Homo sapiens: one gene and its partner. Changing the gene in region 1 together with any one later gene gives a genetic interaction. Each region holds a gene or a part of one and is shown in the gene's direction. Other genes may lie near its edges.

Region 1 (3,500 bases):
CTCATGATCTGCCCACCTGGGCCTCCTAAAGTGCTGGGATTACAGGCGTCAGCCACCGCACCCAGCCTTTTTTTTTTTTTTTTTTTTAACAGGGTCTTGCTCTGTCACCCAGGCTGGAGTGCAGTGATGCCGTCACAAATCATTGCAGCCTCAACCTCCTGGGCTCAAGTGATCCTCCCACCTCAGCCTCTCTAGTAGCTGGGACTACAGGCATGCCACCACACCAGGCTAATTTTTTGTAGAGACGAGGTCTCACTTTGTTTCCTACGCTGGTCTCGATCTCTTGGGCTCAAGAGGTCCTCTTGTCTTGGCCTCCCAAAGTGCTGACATTACAGGCGTGAGCCACTGTGCCTAGCTCCACACGCCAGCTTTTTTTTTTTTTTTTTTTTTAATTTTAAGTTCTGGGATACATGTGCAGAACGTGCAGGGTTTGTTACATAGGTATACATGTGCCATGGTAGTTTGCTGCACCCATCAACCCATCATCTAGGTTTGAAGCCCCGCGTGTGTCAGGTATTTGCCTAATGCTCTCCCTCCCCTTGTCCCCCACCCCCCAGGCTCCAGGTTTTATGTCTACATTCCAACCACAAGAAGGGGAAAAAAGGAAAATGGCACCCCTTCTTTTTATTTTTTGAGACGTAGTCTCACTCTGTCTTCCAGGCTGGAGTTCAGTGGCACGATCTCAGCTCACTGCAAGCTCCGCCTCCTGGGTTCACGCCATTCTCCTGCCTCAGCCTCCCGAGTAGCTGGGACTACAGGCGCCCGCCACCACGCCTGACTAATTTTTTGTATTTTTAGTAGAGACGGGGTTTCACCGTGCTAGCCAGGATGGTCTCAATCTCCTGACCTTGTGATCCGCCCGCCTCGGCCTCCCAAAGTGCTGGGATTACAGGCGTGAGCCACCGCGCCCGGCCTCATTTTCTTACCCATGTTGTTTTTGTTCCTGCGCTCCTGTGCCTGTCTGCTGTGCTGAGCTGCAGATGTGTCCTGCCGCGGCTTCGCAGGACAGGGATAAGTTGAGACAGGAAGCAAGAAGCCTTGCCTGTCAGGCTGCCCTTGGCATGACTAGAGTGTATGTGGGGATTTTCACCTCTTATTTTGGGGTCCATTCTGTTCCTTCTTTGAACAATAGTCTTTACAGGATAGGGTGTTTGGGGACAGATTTCATCTTATTTAAGATATAAATAATATAAAATTAACCCACTATAAATTTATTTTTCATTTAAAAAAATTTTTAAAAGACAGGCTCTCACTCTCCCACGCAGGCTAGAATGTGGTGGTATAGTCATAGCTCACTGCAGCCTTGAACTCTTGGGCTCAAGCCATCATCCCACCTCACACTCTTTCCCGGCCGGGCACCCCTTCTTTTTGAGGATACTTCCTGGAAGCTAGTTGCCTACTACACCCCCTCCTACATCCCATGTACCAGAACTGTGGTCATGTGGCATGCTTAGCTGCAAAGGAGAATGGAAAATTCATGCAGGCAGCATGTGGCCAGCTCAATTCACCAGCACTGTCACTGAAGAATGGGAGGCTGTCAGCTGCATATGGGGGCAGTGATTGTGTCTATCTCTTCCCAATGTCTAAAATGGTGCTTGGCACACAGTAGGCACTTAATAAGTATACGTTGAATGGGCCGGGCGCAGTGGCTCATGCCTGTAATCCCAGCACTTTGGGAGGCTGAGGCAGGCGGAACCTGAGGTCAGGAGTTGGAGACCAGCCTGGCCAACATGGTGAAACCCCATCTCTACTAAAAATACACAAATTAGCTGGGATGGTGGTGCACATCTGTAATCCCAGCTACTTGGGAGGCTGAGGCACAAGAATCACTTGAACCCAAGAGGCGGAGGTTGCAGGGAGCCGAGATCATGCCACTGCACTCCAGCCTGGGTGACAGAGACTTTGTCTCAAAAAAAAAAAAGGATATGTTGAATGAATGCATGAGTGGATAGTGGGGAGACCAGGGATCTACTCCAGGATAAACACCACACAGAATGGCCATCAGGATCTGGGAGGATGTAGAGTTTGCAGAGGAAGATAGCCTTGCAGGGACCACAGCACAGTGACGCACGCTCTGGTACCATGGAGCCACTGAGAGCACTGTCGTGGGCAGCAGGCAGACCTGAGTCCAAGTGTGGCTCCACCACTCACTAGCTGTGTGACCTTGGGCAAGCCCCTTACCTCTCTGAGCGTGTACCTGCTCATCAGCTAAAGCAGGGGTCATACCAAATCCTTCTGCCTTACAGGGCTGTTGTGAGGATTACCGAGTGCCTAGCACAGTGCCTGGCCTGCAGTAAGTGCTTTATAAATGTTAAATAATGTTAACTGGTTTTTAGAGGTAAGTGCTGAGTGTTTTGGGGAAACGTAGAGGAGGGGCCTCTAACCTAGCTTTGGAGGCTGTGGAATCAAGGAAGGCTTCCTGACAGAGGGGGCAACCTGTGTTGAGACTTGAGGGACAAATAGTTACACAAGGGAAGAGTGTTCTCCACAAAGGGAACAGCATGTGTGAAGGCCAGAGGTTAGAAAGCACAGGGCCTGCTCAGTATTCAGTGTGGCTGCAAGATGAAGTTGGGGTTAGAATGGGCTGAGAGTGTTTGGAAGTGAGGCTGCAGGGGTCATCAAAGGCCAGGGCCAAGAAGGATGGATTTAGGTGGGATGCAGTGGCTCATGCCTGTAATCCCAGCACTTTGGGAAGCCCAGGCAGGAGGATCACTTGAGCCCAGGAGTTTGAGACCAGCCTGGGCAACATAGTGAGACCTCCATCTCTACAAAAATAAAAATAAGAAAGATGGATTTGGCCAGTAGGAACACGGGACCTGAAGATTTTCAGGCAGGGGAGAGGGAAGACAGGCCGAGCAAAGGAGAGACATCAGAGAGCCAAACCCACCCCATCTATTGGAGAACAAGGCCATGGAGGTCAAAGCAAGTTCTTGTGACCTCATTGGCCGGGGGTGGCTGTTGGGGTGAGGGCAGCCCTGCATGGGACCAAGGGCAGGGCTGGGTATAGGTGAGGATTGGGGTGGGCTGCGACATCACCCCTCCCTCTCCCCTGCCTGCAGCTTCGGGGTGCTGCTGTGGGAGCTGCTGACGGGGGAGGTCCCCTACCGTGAGATCGACGCCTTGGCCGTGGCGTATGGCGTGGCTATGAATAAGCTGACGCTGCCCATTCCCTCCACGTGCCCCGAGCCCTTTGCCCGCCTCCTGGAGGGTGAGCCGGGGCCCCGTGACGAGGGTAGGCTCAGCTTGGAGTGGCAGGGACCTGTGGGCCCAGACCTTTCCCCTTCACACCTATCCATACCAGTGGGCCCAGGAGTGAGGAAGAAGGGGCTGGAACCCACTGGACTCTAAACAGCCTCCCCATGGTTGGCTCCATCCCCCACATCCCAGCCCTTGTTTGGGCCAGGCCCAGAGCTCTCAGGACAACCTGTTAGGATTCCTTGGCCCTGGGATTCCACCTTGATCCTGATTCCACTACCAGCCCCTCCTCGGGGTGCAGGTCC
Region 2 (3,242 bases), on another chromosome or scaffold:
CTTGGCACACTGCAAAGCCTGAGTATTTGTGGATCACGTGATCTGTGCTAGTGACTATCAGGAGTCTGAGATTTGAAGCGATGGATTTCCCAGCATGGTCCCAGCTCCCCACTGATGTGAAAGGTGGTGGTGAGTTAACAGCTGAGCCACCACCTGCTGCCCAACCCCACGTGTCCCACATGGCCGGGCGGTGCTGCGCTAACTCATCTCCCCCTGGATGGAAACGTTTGCGTGGTGACAGCCGATTCTCTTGAGAGTCATTTGCTGCCCATGTTGCTGGGGAGATTCTGCCTCAGGGCCAGGAGTGGTTTGCTCCTCCCACCCCGGGCCCAGGGCTGCTGGTGGGAGGCCCCAGGGAGGAGCAAGGACTCTAATGCTTCGTGTGGTGGGAGCCTCAGGACTTTCCCACGTGCGACAGGCACGTTCCTGGGAGCTCGGTGGGAGGAACCCAGCCACGTTGTGTGCTGCGCAAGGAGCCGGCGGCAGGGAGGGGAAAACGGAAAGACGCAGAGGAGGGCAGGTGACAAGAGGCCCACAGAGAGATGGCTGGGTCTGGGCAGCGGGTGGGAGCAGGAGGGAGGCGGTTATGGGAGACGTGGAGCAGTGGAGGCCGTCAGAAGTGGGGATCACAGCTGTGACCTCATGGAGAGGGACAAGCCCCACAGCTGGGCTGGTGCCAGCTCCACTACCCAGGGCCAACCTGTGTGGCCGTAAAATTCTCAAGCCTGGAGTGTGTAGAAGGCAGCAGTGCCCTGGCCTGGCCACCCGCGAACCCCTCTGTCCACCCCATGCTGCGTGGCACAGGGCAGGCGTGGGGCCTCTAGCTGGAGCCTTGAGTGGGTGGATCCTCGGTGGGGCTTTAAGGCCAACCTGTTTATGAAAATGCATGGGGACTGACTGCAGATGCACAGACAACTCAGATGCACAGACGCCCGGACGACGTGGACACCCAGACGATGTGGACGCACAGACGACATGGACGCACAGACGATGTGGATGCACGGACGACGTAGACACACGGATGACTCATCCACAGATGACTCAGATGCACGGACACCCAGACGACGCGGACGCACAGACGACGCGGACGCACAGATGACGTGGACGCACAGATGACGTGGACGCACGGACGACGTGGATGCATGGACGACGTGGACGCACAGATGACCTGGACGCACGGACGACGTGGACGCACGGATGACTCAGATCCCCAGACGACTCAGATGCACGGACACCCAGATGACATGGATGCACGGACGACTCAGATCCACAGATGACTCAAACGCACAGATGACTGGGATGCTCAGATGACCGCTGCTGTGCTGCCACCCCAGGGCTCTCTGGGCGTTTCCTGTGGTTTGGGCACCAGGAGCCTGGGAGTCCCATGCTGCCCCCAGGGCACTACCTCCTGGGCCCAGCCCTGCATCCGGTGGCAGGGCTCACCGTCATCACCCCAACAGTGCAGGGTGGTCTCAGGGACCTCCTCTCATCATTGCCAAGAACTGGCTCCAGGATGTTTCCATGTGGCCGGCTAGTATGGCCAAAGTGGACCCTGGCGTGCTGTCCCCTTGGACGCCTCCAGGCCCTGCCCAGCACGTGGGGCTCGTCCATTCTGTGCCTGACCATGCTCTGCCATGCGGGGCCTAGCCCAGCCCCCCAGCCCTGCTGCTTCTCCCCACCCCACCCCCGCCACCTCCACCAAGCCACCAGCATCCTGCCTGGCCCTACGGACAGCAGGGTCGTCCTGTGTCCAAAAGCCTCCTCCCCCTCAGCCCCTTCACTCGGGTCTCATGGGGCCCCTCTGTGGCCCCCAGCGCACAAGGCACACACCCACTATGGGGCCTTTGCACAGCTGTGCCCTCCCCAGGCTCCAGCCCTCACCTCCCCCAGGCTATTTCTCAGATGTCCCTTCAGAACTAGAGCCCTTGGGCCCCCAGCCCCATTGACACGGAACGGGCCCCCTGTTGTATCTCAGGTCACTGCTGTGGTTGCAGCCACAGGGGCAACACCTGTTACTGCCACAGCGTCCGACCTGGGGCCAGCGTGCATTCAAACGCACTGCTCTGAGAGGCCAGGACGTCCATGGGTTGGGCGCAGGGGGCGGCGGTGGGAAAAGGTGTCAGGCACCATGGGTCCCGACCTGGAGCCCACGTGCCAGCTGCAGAGATGGGCACTGAAGGCTTTTGAGCAAGAGGAGGAGGTAACGCTGGCCCCTGGGGATGCTGTCAGGGAAACTGAGGCAATCTTGAGCCCTCGGAGCAGAGAACGGGCTGGGCCAGGGGCTGGAGGACCCTGGGCCAGCTCCAGCTGGGTCCTGCTCTGTTCCCACCCCTGCTGCTTATTAAACCCTTGTAAAGCAGCACAGGACTAAGGTAGGGAAAGTACTTTAGGAAATGCCCCTTTTTCACATTTTATCGGCAGGTGTTTCATACAAAGAATACAAGTAACTGATGAATGAAGGGGGCATCTTGTGTCCCCACAATCCTGCTGTGCGCACACCACAGGTGAGCCGTTCTGCCTAAGGGAACAGCCCCGGCCCCTCCCTCCGGCTCCTCCCCAGCACCGTCTCCTCCACCCAGTGGCCTGGCCGTGGATGCTGCCTGTGGCCCAGCTTTGAGACACCGCCCTGACACGTGTCCAGCCTTACGTGGAAGGATTTGTCTGTTTTGTGGCATCCTAGTAGATGCCACGTTAGTAGATGCCATGTTAGTAGAATGGATGTGGGCATTTCTTTGTAAGTTCCCAAAAGCCTATGAGGGTTTTTTCCACGATTCCGTTCCCAGTTTGGCTTTTGTTGTTGTTGTGGCTGTTCTTGGCCCCCCTGGGCCCTGCAGTGGAGTGGGGGGCTGCACCTGGGAGCCTCGAGCTGAGGCCCAGCCCCTCCTGCCCTGCATTTTCCTGCCAAGCAGCACCTGAGACTCTGAAGCCGATGCCTATACAGGCAGAAACCTGCCAATTCCAGCTTGAACGACTGGAGGGTCCTGAGGATGGGGGTCCCTGGGGTGCCATCATGGGCAGGGTGCATCTGTTTGGGTATGCTGCCCCCCAGCTGGCGGGGCACCGGGGACAGGCACAGCCACACTGGGGGCATTTCTGGTCTTGGAAGCCTTCTTGGCTCTTCCGGAGGGAAGGCGGCTGCTGGGTGCCCTGTGATCCACCCGCGAGCTGGGCTGTTCGGCTTGGTCTGCAGGGGCTGGGGGGCTGCATTTCTTTTCACCAGCTGCACCCACCCGGCCCCATCC

The links. Genes that interact genetically often act in the same process or in processes that back each other up.
Region 2: changes in MAP3K10 (region 1) and PRKCZ together harm fitness more than expected from each alone (negative genetic interaction), as found in Homo sapiens cells (one large-scale study listed by BioGRID).

The regions. Positions count from the first base shown.
Region 1 is NC_000019.10:40,201,426-40,204,925, forward strand, and holds part of MAP3K10 (mitogen-activated protein kinase kinase kinase 10), read left to right. Parts: intron 1-3,059; coding exon 3,060-3,208; coding exon of another isoform or gene 3,209-3,232; intron 3,233-3,500. UniProt on the Homo sapiens protein: Activates the JUN N-terminal pathway.
Region 2 is NC_000001.11:2,179,411-2,182,652, forward strand, and holds part of PRKCZ (protein kinase C zeta type), read left to right. Parts: intron 1-903; coding exon of another isoform or gene 904-1,116; exon of another isoform or gene 1,117-3,242. UniProt on the Homo sapiens protein: Calcium- and diacylglycerol-independent serine/threonine-protein kinase that functions in phosphatidylinositol 3-kinase (PI3K) pathway and mitogen-activated protein (MAP) kinase cascade, and is involved in NF-kappa-B activation, mitogenic signaling, cell proliferation, cell polarity, inflammatory response and maintenance of long-term potentiation (LTP).